2 separate regions of the Homo sapiens genome follow, and region 2 is linked to region 1. Evidence: fine-mapped expression QTL. A gene starts in region 1. The other region holds a variant in brackets. All regions are shown on one strand. Distances are from middle to middle.

Region 1 (10,815 bases):
TCTTCCACTCAGCTGGCAGTTCTGGAGCCACAGGCTGGACTCTGGGGAATAGGACCAGATCCCAGGCCACTCCCAAGAGTATGTGTGCATGCGTGAGTGTGTGTGTGCGTGCACATGTGTGTGTATGAGTATATGTGTGATGTGTGAAAGTCAGCGTGTGTGTGTGTGAGAGAGAGAGAAAGAGAGAGAGAGAGAGATAGGAAGTGAAATCCACATAAAGAAGGGCGGCCTGGGATTTTCCCACAATCATGGCTCCCTCTCATCCTCAATCTCAGGCCAAGTGGTCCTTCACACACAGGCCTGTGCAGACACATCCAGAAAATGAGGGATCACGCCCTAAACTCCCTAGGCAGAAACACTTTAGCAGTCACATCACAAGATGATCCAAGCAAAGACAGCCCCAGGTGACTCACAGCAACCATGCCTCAAAGAAAACTGATGCACTCTGTGTCTCTACTAGTACCTTAGGTGGGGAGCAGACATTGGGCCTCCCAGACCTATTGGAAGGATGTCGGCATCTTTGAGGCCAAGCTGAAGCATGTTTCTCTCACTAGTCCCTGAAACAACTAAGGAACTCATTTCTTTGTGAGGCCTGTTCCCACCACCCCCGACATCCCTGTTTTTTGGATCAACCTCTGTTTGGTATGGTTGGGGCCAGTAGATTCTTTAAAACACTCTGCTCCCTGCCCAGCCCTGCACAAAGCCTGGGTCAGGTATGCAGCAGGAGCTGCAAGTAAGGGCTGTACCCCAGAAGAGAGAGGGGATCAAATTTCCCACAGGCTCCATGGGCTGCATTTCAAGGTTCCAATACCAGTTTAACCTCTTCTTTAGCTAAGCCTGATGACTTCTGCGACTCATTCAGTGCAGAGGGACTCAATGAGGGGACCCCAGCAGTAGATTCCAAGGACCTGCGGCTGTTTGGGGAGCTACATTCTCATCCAGTCAGCAGCATTCTGCAAGGGAGACAGACTGGACGAACATCTGCAGGCTGGGTTTTCCTGCCTGATGAGAAGAGAGACTTAAAGAAGCAAGAAAACTACTTGAGGGTAAATTTCATCTATACTAGATCCTTACTTAGAGAAGAGTCCCAGAAGCATCCCCTTGACTGGTATTGAATGAAAGGCACCTGTGACTTCCTTACCATTTTAGACCCTAACAAAAAGCAAACCTATTTTTGTGGGTCGTTTGTAAAGCCCCCAATCTTACAGCACCTTTGAGACACCAAGTATTTTCACCTCCATGACTCCATTTGCTCCTCACAATGACTCATTTTACAGATAAGGGGCTAAGGTTCAGAGCAAGGCAGCGCTTACCCAGAGCCACACGGTGACCTAGCCCAGCACAAACCCCATTCTGACTGCAAACCCCAGGCCTTTCCTCTGCCACTCCAAGCCACACCACATCCCTCAATTCTATGATGGGGCTGTAGTGACTGTGACAGGACCTACATGGAGAGTGGAGGGGAAGAACTAGGAGACCCGGGCCCTAGCCTGGCTCTAAGTGACCCTAAAGAGGCCACATCCCTTTTCCAGCTTCAGCTACTTGTCCTCTGAGTCTTAACCTCCAGGGATTTTAGCTCTTGGTTCTCCCAAGGAGGACTGGCCCATGTGGGCTCCCCTGGGACTCCATTGCCCCCACTGCTGCCTGCCTGATGACCTGCCCACAGCACAGAGTGAAGACAGGCAAGAGGAAACTCCTCCCACAGCACGCTGGGCCCTGGGAGGGTAGTTACAGTAAGAGCTTGGATAGAGAAAGAGGCCGGAGCAATTCATTCTTGTGAATTTTTCTGATTTCCACTTAGCTGGGCACTCAGGTCCTCATTTCCATGGATAATGAGAAGCTGGCCACATGCCACTGAAATCAGCCCCAATCCTGAAGTGACCTAAATGTCCAAAAATGGGGAGATGATTATCAAAATCACGGTACTGAGCATTAAATGTATGGTTATAAAAGATTTTTCTAGAGATGTAGACATGGAAACGTGCTTTGATATAAACTGAAGTAAAACAAATCAGACTGCAAAATTCCATGTGTGGTGAAATCTCAGCTCTTTAAAATAATACTCAAAGAGAATAGGAAATATGCCAAAATGATAATCATGGTTCCTGTAGAAGTTGTGTATTTTTTCTCAAAAATCAGGAGGAAAACATTTTTTAATTGGCAGTAATAGTTTCAACTTTCTCTATCAATATTTTTCTTTTTTAATTTTTAACCCAACACATATATATCTGATTCTATCAATATTTTTCATCAAGTACAGAGTCCTTGGCAAACACCAAACCTCCCACCACCACTGCAAAGAAAGAAACTGACAAGTGTTCCAATCTTCGCTTTAGAAAAATACACACCAAGCCATGGCAATGACCCCTGACTCCTCAGGATAATCAAAAATGCCCCCGCAGATACTGCAGCTCAATGCTCTTTTCTTTTTTCTTTTTTTCAAAAGGACATTTAAGGATTCTATACTTTTATTTGTATACTTCTAACCCAGAGTTTCCCATCATACGTATCTTGGATCAATAATAGGATGGCATTAGGGAAATACTGAATAAAGGATACCGTATTCAAACAAGCTGGGCAAGTTCAAATCTCAGTGTAATGAATTAAAAGACAATACTCTGTGGAAGGACCCTCAAAGAGATATAGCATGTGATATATGTGATATCATATAATGGGAAATGATATAGCATCTATCATTTCCCAAAAACTATTTTAGGACTATCTCAAGGAATGACCACTCTGTGGACATAGGGATATCTTGGGAAGTGCAGCTTTGAGCCCCAGCTTTCTCCCGTTCTCTCAGCCTTCTTGCCCTGTGGTTCTCAGCCCTGGCAGCACACTGGGCTCACTTGCAGAGCCTGAAAACATCCCTTGGTCTGGGTCTCATCTGGATTTGGGCTGGGGGATGGGGGCAGCCTGAGTCAGGGCTGAGAACCACTTCTTCCCCACACCTTTTTAGTTGTTCATGCTAAGCACAGCTCAACACTAGAATTGAGATCCAATCTCAAAATTATTCACATATCACCCATTTTTGGAGCTAAATGGCACCTTGAATAACATCTAGTCCAATCTCTCATCTAACAGAAGAGGAAACTAAGGTCCTCAAAGGATTCCTAGCCCCCTGTCTCCTCCCATGCTGCTTCTAGCCAGTGCCAGGCTGCCCTGTGGTCTCTGGACCTCAAGACCCTTCATTCAGATGGAGAAGCAAAGGACAGCCTTCAGATCTCCAAGGCCATTTCACTGCCAGAGGATGACCATCAGGCCCCTCTCTCTGCAAGTGAACCCTGAGACAGTGAAATGTTGACACAAGTCCTCTTCCTAACACAATACCAGAACCCAGAGCCAGGGACGTGAAACCGGGAAGCTGCAATGACTCACAGAACGGGAAGCTTACGCTGGCAGTGGGGCAAACACACCAATGTTCCCCTAGGCAGCCTGAGCAGAAGGCAGGTACCATCTCTCCTCCAGGCACTCTGCTTCAGCCGCAGACCACAGAGCCTCTGCTACATTTGCCTTTAAAGCCAGGAGACTCCAGCATGCTAATGCCCCTCGGAGTGGATGGCTGTGGCCTGAGTTCTGGTAACACTCTTGCTCCTAAACAGGGAATTTGTAATAGGATATCTCCACACTTTTCGTTTCACATCCTGTACCCCCAATCATTCCCCCTTTTGAAGCTTAAGATTCCACTATTTCCTTCTCTTAGCAGCTTTGAGAAAAAACCTGAAGCTGGATAGGTGTTAGGAGGGGTGAAACATACACACACCCCTAGCCTCAAAGGTACCCTTCCCTGAGCCCCCAGCTCCTTATGACCAGCCCTCCACCTCTGTTCCAGCCACCTGCCAGGCCCCCCTGCACACAAAGGAGCTGTTCTCACAGAGACCCTCCATCCTACAGCGCAGTCTCTAGACAGCCTTCTAAACCCCAGGCCCAGCAAAACTCCCCACAAAGCATCTCCAGTGGGTTCCGATCTGCCTTCTGTGAGCTTGGAAGGAAAGGGAAGAGGCGAGCAGGCACGGAAGCAGCCAGGGGAGCCCAGTGAACTGCAGGAGCCCAGTTGGGGTTGCAGGGGTTTTCTGCTGCGGGAGAAGCAGAGCAACTAACCAGCGGCCGGGCCTGAGGGACGCCCCTTTCCTGGGGTTGCATGTGTCCTTTAGCTAAGCCGCCTGGGCCACATTCTCGATGGGTTTTTCTTTTCTGCCTGTTAGTGTCTGTGAAGTTGATCAATGGAAGGGCCACGTCCACAAGATCCTGGTTTCATCGTGACATCCCAGACCCACCAGTGCTTCCACATCTGCCCAACAGTCCTCCTGTCGGGGAGGTAGAGGAAGGCGGATTGGAACCTTACTAGAGCCAATTTAACTCAATGTTAATTTAGTTATTAAATGTTAATAAACGTTAGGACATTATTTTTAATATCAATACATAGCTAAATTAGAGAAGATAGTATAAAATTCACATGAACTTTGGAGAGTATTAAAATGACTTCAAAAGCATCTCATCAGAGGCTGCCGTGGGTTCCCCAGGGAACGCTCCCCTCTCCCTGCCTTGTGGATTGCATGAAGATTGCAGAGTTGCGAGTGGGTTACGGTTAGGTCAAGGAGTGCAGATTAGTAATAAAAGCCCCCTTATTACGGTCCGCCCCACTAAGAGCGGCAGGAAAGCCGATCGCCCCCAGCTCTGGTGCAGAAATGAAAGCCGCCGCCGCCCCATGCAACTTTCGGGGAACAACTCCGGCCTCGGGAGGCCGCGCAGGCTGCGCGCGCCCTGGGCCGCTGCGCGTTGACTGCAGCCACCTGTCCTGGTGATCGCCCCACCCTCCGCTCGCGCGTTCCTTCCCGCGAGTCCTACCATGTCCCCGGCGGTGCCCCGGCCGGCTCCTCGGCGCGCTCAGCCGGCTCGCAGACTCATCCCGCCTCCCCTTGGCCGCCCCCGGCGCCGTGGCTCGCCAGGCTTCCCAGGATGCGCGGCTACTCGGCTGGGGCGGGTTTCCCGGACTGAAGGTGCACACGTTCTCTGCAGCCAAGTGGCCCTGCGCCAACTCTCGGGAGATCGCTGCACACCGGGATACTCCGCGGGTGGGGAATACACGCCGGATCTACTGAGATCTACGGGGATCTGAGGGAGCCTACCCGCGGCCGCGAGCCTCTGCGGTCTACTCGGGACTTTTGCAGAGTTTGCAAAGTCCCTGCCGCGCGTCCCGGCCCAGCTTCCCCATTCCCCTGAAAGCGCGGGAGGGGGAAGCTCCCTTCACAATAAAAGCCCTGCCGGGGGCTCGGCCAGCCGCAGTCTTCTGGTCTTCTGGAGTAGGGGCCCAGGTGCTAGGAAGGAAAGGTCTACGCCCTGACTGCCCGCCTGACGGGTGATGCACCAAGGCTGGACGGTGAGGGACGCCTCTAAGGTGTGAGGGTGCTTGGTGAGTTCGCTGCAACTCAGCAATATGGCTGAGTGTTGCCCAAACTGCCACCCTCTCCTGCCAAGCAGGACAAGTCTTTTTCTTTACTGTCGCTTGTCAGAAGGACAAGTCTTTTTTTACTGTCACTTCTTCGCCTTGTTTGGGTTCAGTCCCCAAGAGGATTTGGAAGGAAAATCCGTTGACCACTAAGCTAATTAACAATGAAGAGTTTTTGTCCTTGAGAACTAATCACTGTTAAAGTCACTGAAGTAAGTGGCTGATACCTCTCTGCTTTGGATGCACAGACAGTGCCTTTGTGTCCCCTGAGTCACCTACTGCCAACAAAGGCACAGTCAGAGCAAGACCTGAGAGTCTATCCGTTCCCCGTTGGGGAATGTCCTGGGCTTAGGGGTTCTGTAGTCCCAAAATCAGGGCTAGCCCCACTATTAACAGCTGGATGACCATCGACCAGTCCCCAGACGTCTTTATGACTTGTGTCCCCCAGTGGCCCAATGTTTGGACCCCAGGATTATTAAGAGCCTGTAGACAATGGATGGAGGCGAGGCAGAGTCAGCAGTAGGGTGCTCTGAGAGAATTTGGGGGCCAGGCTGAAAAATTAGCCTCCAGTACTGAAACTAACAGGAAGCATCATTAGCTAGATGAAGACAGGCATCTTCCCAGCAGTCTCCTGCCCCAGAATGATCTGAGGTTATCACTGATGGCAGTGCTTCTAAAGGGAAGCAAAGATCCAGAGAGTCCCCTTAAATTGTGTATGTGTGTATGGGCAGGAGGAACAGATGAAGGGAAAGTATTCGGTCCTTAACATTCCAGATGCTTTCTGTACATTATTTCATTTAATAACCACAAACGATCCTAAAAGGAAAACTTTTGCAAATTAGGAAAGTCAGGATTAGGGAGGTGAAGTAACTTTCCTGAGACCAGATCGCCAGTAAACAGTTTAGCAAATCCAAGTCTATTTGCCAGAACATGAAACAAAGAGGAAGACTTGATATGGCAGGAACAGGAGGCAGGATGTAGCACTGCAAACTGCAGCTTGTCTGTGCATATGGACTACTGAAAGGACAGAGAGTTTGAGCCCTGGTTGGGAAATGAGGGAAGAGGGTGGAGGACAGTACAAACCATTCAGGGTTTTATTTAGATGTTTAGGGAGACGCTGTGATCTTTTGAGTCTCATTTTCTGACTGTGACCCCACACAAGATATATATTAAACATATATGTATAAATGTAACTAAAAGATTGTTTTATAAAACATTACTTCATGTGATGCACTCTGACATTTTCTATTCTATTCCAATTTTATGTATTTTTAATGATGGTCTCAAATCACTAACTTAGACAGGAAGAGAGTGCCCAGTATTTCCAGGATTACTGGAAGCAGAACTGTTTTTCAAAAGAAGCAGCTCCAATGACTCATGGAACACACTTGGGAAAAGCTGCTGCAGGATCTAGCCCAGCCAAATAAAATGTCACACAAGAACATGGCTAAGCTGTAAAGAATTGTTTGTTGTTATAGCATATCCTGGTCCATCCTAATAACATGAATAAAATTACTTTTAAGAAGAATTACTTGAAAAGAGTCATAAATCAGATTTTTGTCATTTCTCTGCTCAAAACCTACCAGAGGCTTCAAATCTCCTGCAGTGTAACATGCCACATCTTACAGGGGCCTACAAGTCCTTTCACACTTTGGCCCTCATTGGTTCTCTAACATTATCTCTGCACACTCTCTCTCACTGTGCTCCAGGACACACTCACCTTCTTATTGTCCCTTGCATATTACAGGCAAGATCCCACCTCAGGACCTTTGCACTTGTTATCCCTCTCCCTAGAATGCCCCAGATATCCCCATGGTTTGCTCCCTCATCTCCTTCAGGTCTTTGCCCAAGTGTCACCTCTTTAGTGAAGCCTTCTCTGACCACTCTATTTAAGATTGCACACTCCATTCCTCTTCAGTTCCACCTTGTAATTCTTTTTTTTTTTTTTTTTTTTTTTTGAGACGGAGTCTCGCTCTGTCGCCCAGGCCGGACTGCGGACTGCAGTGGCGCAATCTCGGCTCACTGCAAGCTCCGCTTCCCGGGTTCACGCCATTCTCCTGCCTCAGCCTCCCGAGTAGCTGGGACTACAGGCGCCCGCCACCGCGCCCGGCTAATTTTTTGTATTTTTAGTAGAGACGGGGTTTCACCTTGTTAGCCAGGATGGTCTCGATCTCCTGACCTCATGATCCACCTGCCTCGGCCTCCCAAAGTGCTGGGATTACAGGCGTGAGCCACCGCGCCTGGCCGCAACTTCTTGGAAGCTATATTAAAGGGTTTTAAATTTAGATAACCAGTAAATCCCTCCCTTCTAGGAAACAACACTTCATGTTTTGTTACTTTCCAAATTTTTGTTGACTGGTGGTTGGCTGCTCCCAGGTTGTTGGCAGAGCCTCTGGTTACACTGCAGACCTTGCAAGTAGGAAATACTCAACTCACTCCACTGGGACAGGTTGGTGCTAGAGAGGAATATTTTATTATTTTCATGACAGGGTGCTCCAGGTTCATTAGGAGTGAGTCTATCTTTCACCAGTTAGCAGATTTCCAACTTGCTCTAAGGACGTTTTAGGGTTTCTTATAAACTGGTACCCCAGGCAGCGGCCCAACAGGCCCACTCTCTAATAAGATTCCATGTCTAGCTCCATTCCAGACTTACTGAATCAAAATTTCCAAGGCTTGAGTGTCTTTATATTTTTTAAGCATAGCCAGGGCTGAGAACTGCTGAACGACGCAATTCCTCTTCCTTGGCTCCCATATCCAAATGGCCTTTCTAAATGATTCTGGAATCTTTCTCCTCCTCACGGCCAGTTCTTTGGCTCAAACTTTTGTCATCACTTACAGTACTCTCAGAAACTCAACTAGCATCTCAGGCTCTACTTTTGCTCTTTCCAATCCATCCTGCACATTACTGCCAAAACGTAAACATGGGCCTGCCACTGACCTGTTCCACATAACTCTCAGGATTAAGTGCAAATTCCTCAGCAGCATAGCTTTCAGACTCCTTCAAGGTTTGACCTCCGATTACTTCTTCAAGCCTTTTACACACTCATAAACCTCCTTCAGGGCAGTTTCCTCCATCTCAAAGCCTTTTCTTGACACATTCCTATTTCCAACCTGACATACCTCCCTGCACCAGTCCTCCCCATCCTGAAGGTCCAGCACAGCATGTCCCCTGAAGTTTCTCTGTTGCAAATATTATCTCCTGTGACTCTCACTTCCTAGAAGAAAAGACGATTCTGGGCCTTCTGTCTCCATCTTCCTGGTACCAAGTAGCTACTTGATAAATGCTTCTGAATAAAGGAATGAGACAGAGAAGACTGAGGTTCAAAACTGAATCTACCACTCACAAAGCATGGGTCCTCAGCAAAGCCACTTCCTCTCCACTGGTTCAGGTTCCTCATCTGACAGATAAGAACCATCATCCCAGCCCAGCCTAACTCCCTGGATTCCTGCAACCATGTAATGTGCTCATATAAGTTACAACATCCAAGTCAGGACTTTTCTCATGGTAAACTTTCAAAAACATTTATTGAATCCAAGAATGACGAATGAGAAAAAAACTTCTTTTGCAGCAGAGAATGTTAGCATCCAGTTTACATTCTTTTTTTTCATTCACTTAACTCGTATATTTCAAGGGGAAGCAGTATACTTGGCCAAAAAATTATATATTTCACAACCTCCCTTGCAAAAACGAACAGCCAATAAGAAGCAAATGGAAGTCATTGGTGGGGCCCACAGAAGCATTTGAAGGGGGCTGAGGTAACTTACATTATTGTTCAGCAAATATTTACTCCCTATATTAGTCTGTTTTCATGCTGTTGATAAAGACATACCCAAGACTGGGCAATTTACCAAAGAAAGAGGTTTAATGGACCTAGAATTCCACATGGCCTCACAATCGTGGCAGAAGGCAAGGAAGAGCAAGTCACGTCTTACATGGATGGCAGCAGGCAAAGAGAGAGAGAGCTTGTGCAGGGAAACTCCGCCTTACAAAGCCATCAGATCTCATGAGACTTATTCACTATCATGAAAACAGCATGGGAAATATCTGTTCCCATGATTCAATTACCTCCCATAGGGTCCCTCCCACAACATGTGGGAATTCAAGATGAGATTTGGGTGGGGACACAGCCAAACCATATTATTCTGCCCTGGCCCCTCCCAAATGTCATGTCCTTACATTTCAAAACCAATCATGCCTTTTCAACAGTCCCCCCAAAGTGTTAACTCATTTCAGCATTAACTCAAAAGTCCACAGTCCAATGTCTCATCTGAGACAAAACAAGTCCCTTCTGCCTATGAGCCTGTAAAATCAAAAGCAAGTTAGTTATTTCCTAGATACAATGGGGGTACAGGAATTGGGTAAATACAGCCATTCCAAATGGGAGAAATTGGCCAAAACAAAGGGGCTACAGGCCCCATGTAAATCTGAAATCCAGCAAGGAAGTCAAATCTTAAAGTTCCAAAATTATCTCCTTGACTCCATGTCTCACATCCAGGTCATGTTGACGCAAGAGGTGGGCTCCCGTGGCCTTGGGCAGCTCCATCCCTGTGGCTTTGCAGGGTATAGCCCACCTCCTGGCCACTTTCACAGGCTGGCATTGGGTGGTCTGCAGCTTTTCCAGGTTCACAATGCAAGCTATTGGTGAATCTACCATTCTGGGATCTGGAGGATTGTGGCCCTCTTCTCACAGCTCCATTAGGCAGTGCCCTAGTAGGGGTTCTGGGTGGGGGTTCACACCCCACATTTCCCTTCCACACTGCCCTGGCAGAGATTCTCAAAGAGGGCCCCACTCCTGCAGCAAACTTCTGCCTGGACATCCAGGCATTTCCATACATCCTCTGAAATCTAGGAGGAGGTTCCTGAACACCAATTTGTGACTTCTGTGTACTTGCAGGCTCAACACCACGTAGAAGCTGCCAAGGCTTGGGGCTTGCACCCACTGATGCCACAGCCCAAGCTCTATATTGGACCCTTTCAGCCATGGCTGGAACAGCTGGGATGCAGTGCACCGAGTCCCTAGGCTGCACACAGTATGGGAACCCTGAGCCCAGCCCACAAAACCACTTTTTCCTCCTAAGCCTCTGGGCCTGTGATGGGAGGGGTTGCTGTGAAGACCTCTGACATGCCCTGGTGACATTTTCTTCATTGTCTTGGGGATTAACATTCAGCTCCTCATTGCTTGTGCAAATTTCTGCAGCTGGCTTGACTTTTCCTCAGAAAATGGGATTTTCTTTTCTCTCCCATTATCAGGCTGCAAATTTTCCAAACTTTTATGCTCTGCATCCCTTATGAAACTGCCTTTAATAGCACCCAAGTCACCTCTTGAATGCTTTGCTGCTTAGAAATTTCTTCTGCCAGATACCCT
Region 2 (10,815 bases), 32 kb before region 1:
CTCCTTCCTGTGGCTTCACACAGCCTCTACCTGTGTCTTCACAGGGACACTTCTGGCATGTTCACACTGCCTCTGCCTGTGGCTTCACACAGCCTGTTTCCCTGTCATCACAGCCCCTACCTATGGCTTCACACAGCCTGTTTCCCTGTCATCACAGCCCCTTCCTGTGTCCTCACACTTCCCCTTCTTGTGGCTTCACACAGCCTCTACCTGAGACTTCACACTGCCCCTTCCTATGACTTCACACTGCCTCTTCCTGTAACGTCACACAGCCACTTCCTGTGACTTCCTATGCCCCTTCCCGGGGCTTCACACAGCCCCTTCCTGTGACCTCACATTGCCACTTCTGCCCTCACACAGCCCCTTTCTGTGACTTCACAGAGCCCCTCCCTGTGACTTCACACTGGCCCTCCATGTGACTTCCCAAACCCCATCCTGTGGCTTCACACAGACCCTTCCTGTGGCTTCACACAGACCCTTCCTGTGGCTTTACACTGCCCCTTCCTTTGGCTTCACACTGCCCCTCCCTGTGGCTTTACACTGCCTCTTCCTGTGACTTCACAGTGCCCCTTCCTGTGGCATCACACAGCCTCTTCCTGTGGCTTCACACTGCCCTGCCCCTCCCTGTTACTTCACACTGCCCTGCCCCTTCCTGTGACTTAACACTGCCCCTTTCTGTGGCTACACATGGCCCCTTGCTGTGGCCTCACACAGCACCTCCCTGCCTGTGGCTTCACACTGCCTCTACCTGTGACTTCCCACTGCCCCTTCCTGTGGCTTCACACAGCCCCTTTCAGTGACTTCACACACCCGCTTCCTGTGACTTCCTACTTTCCTTCCTGTGACTTTGCACAGCCCCTTCCTGTGGCCTCACACAGCCCCTTTCTTGTGACTTCACACTGTACCTTCCTATGGCTTCACACTGCCCCTTCCTGTGGCTTCACACTGCCCCTTCCTGTGACTTCACACTGCCCCTTTCTGTGTCTTCACACAGCCAGAGATCCTGTGACTTCACACAGCCCCTACCTGTGACTTCTCACTGCCCCTTCCTATCACTTCACACCGCCCCTTCCTGTGACTTCACACTGCCCCTTCCTGTGACCTCACAAGCCCCTTACAGTGGCTTCACACAGCCCCTTCCTGTGGCTTCCCACAGCCCCTTCCTGAGAATTCGCACTGCTCCTTCCTGTGACTTCCCACTGCCCCTTCCTGTGATGTCATACTGCCCCTCCCTGTTATTTCACACCACCCTGCCCCTTTCTGTGACTTCCCACAGCCCCTTCCTGTGACTTCACACTGCCCCTACCTGTGATGTCACAGAGCCCCTTCCTGTGGCTTCACACTGCCCCTCCTAGTGGCTTCACACAGCCACTTCCTGTGACTTCACCCAGCCCCTTTCTGTGACTTCTCACTGTCCCTTCCTGTGGCTTCACACAGTCCCTTCCTGTGACCTCAAATTCCCACTTCCTGTGACCACACAAGCCCCTTCCAGTAGCTTCACACTGCCCATTCCCAGGGCGTAAAACAGCCTCTTCCTGTGATTTCACAGTGCCTCTTCCTTTGGCTTCACACAGCCCCTTCCTATGACTTCCCATTGGCCTTTCCTGTAGCTTCACACCACCGCTTCCAGTGACTTCACATTGCCCATTCCTGTGATATCAAAGTGCCCTTTCCTGTGGCTTCACACAGAACCCTGCCTGTGACTTCATACCACGCCTTCCTATGACTTCATACTGTCTCTTCCTGTGACTTCACATGGCCACTTCTTGTGACTTCCCATAGCCACTCATTCTGACTTCCCACTGTCCCATACTGCGACTTCACAAAGCCACTTCCTGTGACTCCCTGCAGCCCCTTCCTGCAACTTCCCACAGCCACTTCCTGTGACTTCCCAATGCCCCTTCCTGTGGCTGCACAATGCCCCTCCTTTTGGCTTCACACTACCCTCCCTGTGGCTTCACACTGCCTCTTCCTGTGACGTCACACTGCCCCTTCTGTGGCTTCAGACTGCCCCTTCTTGTGGCTTCACACTGGCCTTTCCTGTGACTTCACACAGCTTCTTCCTCTGACTTCACACCATCCCTTCCTTTGACATCCCACTGCCTCTTCCTGTGACTTCAGACAGCCCCTTCCCATGACTTCACACTCCTTCTTCCCGTGACTTCTCACTGACCCTGCCTGTGGCTTCACACAGCACCTTCCTGTGACTACCCCCTGTCCCTACCTGTGACTTCACACAGCCCCTTCCTGTGACTTCACACTGTGCCTTCCTGTGGTTTAACACTCCCCCTTCCTGTGGCTTCACACAGCCCCTTCCTGTGACTTCCTACTGCCCCTTCCTGTGGCTTCACACAGTCCCTTCCTGTGGCATCACACCACCTCTTCCTGTGACTTCACACTACCCCTTCCTGCCGCTTTTCAAAGCCCCATTCTGTGGCTTCACACAGCCCCTTCCTGTGGCTTCACATTACCCTTCCTGTGACTTCACACTGCCTCTTCCTGTGACTTCCAACAGCCACTTCTTGTGACTTCCCACTGCCCCTTCCTGTGGTTTCACAAAGCCCCTGCCTGTGAACTCACACTGCCACTTCCTCTGACCTCACCTAGCCCCTTTGTGTGAGTTCATACAGCCACTTCCTGTGACTTCACGTAGCCCCATCCAGTGGCTTTACCCAGTTCCTTCCTGTGATATCACACTACCCTGTCCTGTGACTTCCCACAGCCCCTTCCTGTGACTTCACACAGCACCTTCCTGTAACTTCCCACTGCACATTCTGGTGGCCTCACACTGCCCCTTTCTGTGACTTCCCACTGTCCCTTCCTGTTGCTTCACACTGCCACTTCTTTGGCTTCACAATACCCCTCCCTGTGGCTTCACAATGCCTGTTCCTGTGACTACCCACTGCCTCTTCCTGTGGCTTCACACAGCCCCTTCCTGTGACTTGACACAGCCCCTTGCTGTTACTTCCCACTGCACCTTCTTGTAACTTCCTACTGCCCATTCCTGTGGCCTCACACTGCCCCTTCCTGTGACTTCACAGCACCCCTTGCTGTGGTTTCACACGGCCCCTTCCTTTGACTTCACACTGCCTCTGTGACTTCTCACTGCCCCTTCCTGTGGATTCACAGAGCCTCTACCTGCGATTTCACACTGCCCATTCCTGTGGCTTCACATTGCCTCTTCCTGTGACTTCCCACAGCCACTCCCTGTGACTTCTCACTGCCCCTTCCAGTGACTTCACACAGCCCCTTCCTGTGACCTCATACTGCCCCTTCCTGTGACTTCACACTGCCCCTTTCAGTGGCTTCACACACTCCTTCTTGTGACTTTCCACTGCCCCTTCCTGTGACTTCCCTCTGCCCCTCCCTGTGACTTCCCACAGCTCATTCCCGTGATTTCCCATGCCCCTTCCTGTGGCTTCACAAAGCCCCTTCTGTAACTTCACACTGCCTCTTCCTGTGATTCACACAGCCCCTTCCTGTGGCTTCACACTGCTTCTTCCTGTGGCCTCACACAACCCCCCTTTCTCTGACTTCACATAGCCCCTTCCTGTGACCCCATTGCCCCTTCCTGTGACTTCACACTGCCCCTTCCTGTGGCTACACACAGCTCCTTCCTGTGGCCTCACACTGCCTGTGGCTCCACACTGCCCTTCCCTGTGACTTCACATAGCCCCTTCATGTGACTTTCCACTTCCCTTCCTGTGACTTCACACAGCTCCTTCCTGTGGCCTCACACTGCCTGTGGCTCCACACTGCCCTTCCCTGTGACTTCACATATCCCCTTCATGTGACTTTCCACTTCCCTTCCTGTGACTTCACACAGCTCCTTCCTGTGGCCTCACACTGCCTGTGGCTCCACACTGCCCTTCCCTGTGACTTCACATAGCCCCTTCATGTGACTTTCCACTTCCCTTCCTGTGACTTCACACAGCCCCTTTCATGTGACTTCACACTGTGCCTTCCTGTGGCTTCACACTGCCCCTTCCTGTGGCTTAACAGAGCCACTTCCTGTAAGTTCACCCTGCCCCTACTTGTGACATCACACAGCCCCTTCCTGTGGCTTCACACTGTCCCATTCAGTGGCTTCACACTGCCCCTTCCAGTGGCTTCACACAGCTACTTCCAGTGGCTTCACACAGCCCCTTCCTGTGACCTCACACTGCCCCTTCCTGTGACCTCAGAAGCCCCTTCCAGTGGCTTCAAACAGCCCCTTTCTATGGCTTCCCACAGCCTCTTCCTGTGACTTCCCTCTGCCCCTTCCTGTGACTTTCCACAGTCCCTTTTTGTGACTTCCCACTGCTCCTTCCTGTGACTTCCCATTCCCCTTCCTGTGGCTTCACACAGCCCCTGCCTATGGCTCAACACTGTCCCTTCCTTTGGCCTCACATTGCCCCTTCCTTTGGCTTCACACTGTCCCTGTTACTTCACACAGCCCCTTTATTTGGCTTCACACTGCTCCTTCCTTTGGCTTCACACTGCCGCTTCCTGTGACTTCACACTGCCCTTTTATCTGGCTTCACACTACCCCTTCCTATGACTTCACACAGCCCCTTCCTTGGCTTCACACAGCCCCTTCCTAACGTCACACTGCCTCTTCCTGTGGCTTCATACTGACCCTGTGGCTTCACACAGCCTCCTCCTGTGACTTCACACAGCCCCTTCCCTTGGCTTCACACAGTTCCTTCCTGTGATGTCACGTAGCCCCTTTCTCTGGCTCCACACAGCCCCTTCCTGTGACTTCACATAATTTCTTCTTATGACATCTTCCAGCCCCTTCCTATTGTTTCACACTGCTCCTTCCTGTGACTTCACTCTGCTTCTTCCTGTGACTTCACATTGTCCCTTTCTGTGACTTCACACAGCCATTTCCCATGGCTTCACACAGCCTTGACTTGCTGCAATTCAGTGTGTGCTAAATCCTAGAAGCCAGCCCTGCCTTGTAAATGACAGCCCACACAGTGGGTTCTTACATACAGAAAAAGGTTCCTATTTGCAATAAAAATCTCTTGTGATCTCCTAACCATTTTTTTTTTTTTTTTTTTTGAGATGGAGTCTCACTCTGTCGCCAGGCTGGAGTGCAGTGGTGCGACCTCGGCTCACTGCAACCTCTGCCCTCCAGGTTCAAGTGATTCTCCTGCCTCAGCCTCTCAAGTAGCTGGGACTACAGGCGCACGCCACCACACCCAGCTAATTTTTATATTTTTAGTAGAGACAGGGTTTCACCATGTTGGCCAGGATGATCTTGATCTCCTGACCTCGTGATCTGCCCACCTCGGCCTCCCAAAGTGTTGGGATTACAGGCGT[G/C]AGTCACCATGCCTGGCCCATTTCTTAATCTGCCTAAGCAAATGCCCTCTTGGCACATTTGAAGAAAACTATTTTGAACAGTTAAAAACACTATAGATATTTTACCTTAATGGATTTGTTGGTGGGTGGAGAGGGGGGAGTTGGGGAAGGTAAGAGGCTAAAGGTCCATGGCAGGGTGCAATTTGAAATTCCTCTGAGGCTCAGATCTGAATCTCATTTACTTCAAGCAAATATGGTAGGAGGAGCCATCCATGTGTCCATGGCTGTCTGCCCAGGTTCTGCTGCTTAGCTTCCATAGCATAACATCAGGGATATTGTAATCTTATTATGTGATGGAAACTTCCTTGGAGAACAAATGGCAATAGCTAGTGCTGGGGAAGGAATGAAAACCAAAAGAAGCCTTAGAAAATGATGGTTCTCAGTTGGGATGGGTGTGGGGAGGAAGTGGTACACAGGGAGACAAGACCTAGAAAATATTAGCTTTTAAAGCAAGAAAGAAAGGAATGTCAAACTTAGAGATGGCAGAAATCTATAATCCAAATGAATTCTCCACCCTCATGAAATACGAAAAGCAATTCAAAAAATCGTTTCAGCAAAGGCCTCAGCCAAGGTAAAAATTATTTTTCAAGGACAGTGATAGAAATTGAAAATTTAACTCTTGCAGCCCACTCTACTGTATTTCATGGGAGAATATAAAATGCTATAATGGTGTTTCTCAAATTCGGGGATTTGAGAAAGCCTCAAGAACTAGGCTTTCTTGAGAAGCCCTGAAAGCATTAGGGTTCTACTGAAGAGTATGGCCTAGCAGGAAGAAGGCTCTGGCTGGGTAATATCTGAGTACGAGTTCACCTTTTCAGACTCCCTCCTTCACCAGAGTGGTTTCTGTTATTGTAGGTACTGAGTTGCTATATATAACGGCCTGGAACCCAACATGTGACTGGTAGACAACAGGGAGTGAAGGATACTGGGAAAGGCATATGATGTTAGGCACGTACTTTGGAGACCCTCAGGGAACCAGTGTGGGAATCCAGAGCACCCTGGGGCAGGAGGCAGCTTCCTCCAAAGGAACAGTGTAGGGGTGAGGTTGCTCCCCAGAAAAATTGTGCTGCATTACAATTTTATCCTTCTATTCTGACCTCCCCTAATGCCAAGCACTGGACCAAGAAATAAGGACACCAGTGCGAAGAAGGCTTGGCCCCTGCCCCCCAGCAACTCACTGTCTCAAGTGAAAAGGTAATGATATAATAATTTCCCTCATGCCAATTCTGGCAAATCTAGCCTTGCCTACGTTCAGGCCACTTATCTTTCCAAACTTGTGGGACAGGGCTGGTGAAGCATGGAATGCTGGACAGCAGTTCTGGGTGCCACCACCTGAGGTCTCCACCAACATCTGATGACACCATGAGTTTGTTACATGTTTTTCACTGTTATGGCTAGAAGGATGTTGCCTCCAGATATTCTCACAATGACTCTAACAGGTAGGAAGGAAATATCATACCATTTTATGGCTGAGGAACTCGAAAAAGAGACTTCAAAATTTGCTCAAGGTGACACACCATCTAAGTAGAAGAGCTGAGATTCCAACTCTGGCCTCCAGCCTGCAGAGACCAAGCCCTTCCCAGCACACAGGAGCCAGTTCTGGCCCTGGGGACTTCAGGGCACATGGGGGAAAGAATTAGCTCAGGCCATCAGGGGTTTATCCAGAAGCATTTTCAATGCGCCCAGATAACCTGGGGGAAGCAGTGCTAGCAGAAGGATTTTAAAGACCTGAGAAATACCTGGATCCGTCTCTTCATTACATTGGCTGGGGTTCCTGATACCAGCTGAGACATGGGAGATGATGAGTTGTGTTATCTTTCAACAAATACTTACACTCACTTCAGAAAGGCAACATCTAGAAGGATGCGCTGAAGGATACACAGGAGCTGGACTCTCTAGGTCCAACCCCCCAGCTTTGCCCTAATAAGCATATATCTTCACATCAATTTCTGCATCTGAAAAATGAGTATGAAAATGGTTCCTCCCTCAAAGAGTTGCTGTGAGGATTCAACATATTTTAATGTATATAAAGTGCTGAGAACAGAGCCTTGCATACATTTTTATAGTTATTACTTAGCATTATCATTAAATCTCATGATTATTAAATCTCCAAGGTACTTGGGAACTCCAGCACCTCCTTTAAGTTACTGCCCCATGCCGCACTCTCTCCATCTGTGGATGGGCTGGTAACAGTTACAGTCACAGCATTCTGAACACTGGCAAACCATAACTGAGAGGAAAGCGTGTGAAGAGGTTTCAGGGACTGATACCAACGTGCCTCCTCAGAGCCACCACTTGCTCAAGTGACCAAAAGAGTGACCTCTGACTCCCTGCTCTGCTGCTCCTAAGTGCAGTTGACTTCTAAAGCATGGCTGCTCTGTACACACCTGTAGAGTCCTGGTGAGGGCGAAAGCATTCCTGGGCAGATGCCTGGCAGCAGGAAAGCAGGGCTCAGACACAAAATACCTCTTAGAAGACTGGCACTTGAGAAGGTTAAAACAAAGCTATAGTTGAAATCTGAGATGGAAAAATTAAATCTTTCCTTTTTCCTTCAGTGAGTCTATCAGATAGGAAGCCTGTACACTGAATGGGAAATAAAGAGGCCTTGCAGTGGGGATGCTCATGAGGCATTTCCTGACAACCGTGGGCATAGAGCTCCTTCCAGCCAGGTGACCTCCGGCTTCAGAGGACTAGGAAGGAGGCAGGCAGCCACGTCTGGGGGTGCACGTGGCACCATGGAGGCGTGGAGGTCCTCCCTCGAGAGACTCCAGAACACCAACTGTAGCCAGCATTGTTGAGCATCTCCCATGCCAGACCCTGTGCCAGGTACCTGATAAGACAGTTCCTCTACTTCCTGCAACCTCCCTGGAAGGGAGGTATCATTCCTCACATTGGGAAGCTGAGGAAACTGAGGCATAGACAGCTTATGTCAGTTTCTTACAGCCTCATAGCTAAGTGGCAGAGTTAGACTCAAACCCAGGTCTAGCTAACTCCATCAGTTTATTAGCCGGAGTTTTGACCCTGCTATTATAGAAGCCTAAAAGAATAAGAGTTGTTTCTCCACCTGCCTTTCTTCTCCAAGCAAGCAAGCAAGCAAGCAAACCCGGAGAGCTGGAAGCCATCCTCTTCCTGCCCCAGGATAGAATAAAAAGGCCTTTGCTTTAAAAGCCAACCAAGGCTCCTAAAGGTAAATTGAGCTGGGCTGTCTGACTGATATCAGGTCACCTAGGTGAGGACAGGCTTGGAGCCAGACAATTTGATTTAGAAAAGTAATGCTGTTGTTCAGCTAAAAATGGTAGACTAAGCACCTGCTATTCTCTTTCTTTCCTCCTGAAATATGAAAATAACAGTAAAGTGTTCTTATTTTTAAAGAACAAACCTCTAAGGATAAAGAGAACAGGAAAGCAGTCAACCATAAAAGCAAAATTCAGGAAGCTGGAAAGCAGGTGAATGAGTAGCAATGGCCTGAGCAGACTCATGAAAGCTGAATCCTAAACTAGAAGGCAGGTCAAAACTCAACATGATTTACACCAAGGGAGCCCCCAACAGGTAAAGGACTGGTGCTGATAGGATAAAAAACAAAAGGATTGGCTGAAAGTCGACTTAAGAAGAAGCTAGACACCCAGATCTCCATACTGTGAAGTCAGGCAGCTGCCCCTCCTGCACCCAGCAGAAGACTGAAAGTTTGTTCTATGGAGAGAGAAAGCTAGGGAAGCTACATGCTGGGAGACACCTGGGACAGTTGAGGGCAGTGGGGACTATACTGAAAACAGGAGTTTTAAGAGAACATTTACATGCTGAACATTGAAATATTGCAAGGGCCCCCCAAGTATCCAACACAATGGCTAAAAAGTGAGACCTTAGTGGTATGGAATTCAGATATTTGCAATTGCCCCACACACTTGTATTTTGATGAGATCACCCACTAGCAACAGTATGTCCTGTTTCCATGGTCATGGAGACAGTTTGTTGCTGCAGCCATTAAAAGCAAAAGCTTCAATAGCAATGGCTGCTTGGGGCCACCTATCCTGAGCTTCACCACTTGGCAGTGCTGTGCCTCTCACCTGCTCTCCTATGACTATCAGGTGTGTGATACTGAGGGGTACACAACCCGGAAGTATAGGGAAACTTATGTCGAGTGGAGCAAAGCTTTGATCATTGGGAGACTGAAGACAGTGGGTAAATTCAAGTGGTCCTGAATTCAATTTATGCAGCTTCTTGGATAGGTCCATAGGATCACACAATCAATTGCCTGTAGCAGCAGCCAGCTTGATAATACATCGCCATATCATCTCTCCTGTTTCCCTGCTTCTCTTTGGGTGTTTCCTGAGATTGTACTCCCAAATAACAGCACATAAGCCTCCAGCCTCGGGCTCTGTTATTAGAAAACCAGGTTAAGACAAACCAAGGCACATCATTGTAAAGCTTCAGAACACTGGGGAAAATATCCTCCAAGTTTCCAGAGAGAAAGGGAGAAAAAAATAAAACAAGTTTTATACCAAGTAATCAAGAATCAGAATGGCTGTGGACTTCTTTACTACAATACCCGAGGCTAGAGCACCATTGAGCAAAGCCTTCAAAATCTGACAGAAAATTATTTCTTTTAATTCTATACTCAAGCCAAACTATCAATCAAATATGAGGGTAGAATGAAGGCAATTTCAGGCATATAACATTTCAACATGGTTTACCCCTCCTGTAGTCACTTTTAACAAGCTATTGGTTAAATTACTCCACTAAAACCAGGAGGTAAGCCAAGAAAGAGGAAGACATGGGATGCAGGAAACAAAGATGCAAAACAAGAGAGGCAAAGAGACTCGTGGGATGCTGGGAAAGGAGGATCCTAAGCCAACGGCTGTGCACCGACCAAGAAAGCGACCAGCTCAGAAGGAGCAGGTCAAAAGGCTCTGGGCAGGGGGTTTCCAAAGAAAGAAATTGATGTGTGCTTGAGTCTATTAAGAGGAAGTTGGCTTGTGATAAGTACATGAAAAAAACTAAGGAAACAAAAAAGATGATTACTAACTAGAGAGAAACAGAAAGGTGCCCAGGAAAGGAAAGGTGATCATAATATAATACAGCAGTCCCTACCCCTTATCCTTGGAAGATACGTTCCAAGCCCCCCAGCGGATGCCTGAAACCTTGGACAGTACCAAATCCCATTGCCATAAATCAGAACACATTTCTAGAAGTTCATGTCTTCCACCCACAAATTGAATGCCTTTTCCATCTTAATGAAGCACTTATCACACACTTTGGCTGTAACTTTTGCCACAGTTTGAGGTGCAGCAGCAAAACTAGCATGAATTTCTCTTTCTTCAGAAGACAATTTCACAGATAGCAGATTCATTCTTACTGCAGATCTTAGCAACCCCAGCCTACGATTTTTTTTTCTTAAGTAGAGAAACTTTCATCTTCTCACTTAAATGAAGCACTTTCAGCGTCTCTTTGTCACACTCCAATTGCAGGATC

What was found. PIP is the estimated chance that this variant, and not a neighbour inherited with it, causes the effect. A credible set is the group of variants that fine-mapping cannot tell apart.
Region 2: its variant is the best candidate, but not a certain one, in a credible set for the expression of GASK1A in anterior cingulate cortex (GTEx, PIP 0.69).

Annotation. Positions count from the first base shown.
Region 1 is chr3:42,973,679-42,984,493 of GRCh38, reverse strand. It overlaps GASK1A (golgi associated kinase 1A), which reads right to left and starts at 5,183. Exons shown (of 5, transcript NM_001129908.3): 1 at 4,849-5,183. The coding sequence starts at 4,851. RefSeq lists enhancers at 1-159, 160-660.
Region 2 is chr3:43,005,612-43,016,426 of GRCh38, reverse strand. All of the region lies in intron 1 of GASK1A (golgi associated kinase 1A), which reads right to left. Among named protein-coding and RNA genes, the nearest start is that of GASK1A, 32 kb to the right of the region's middle. The variant G/C (reference allele first, on the strand shown) is at 5,308.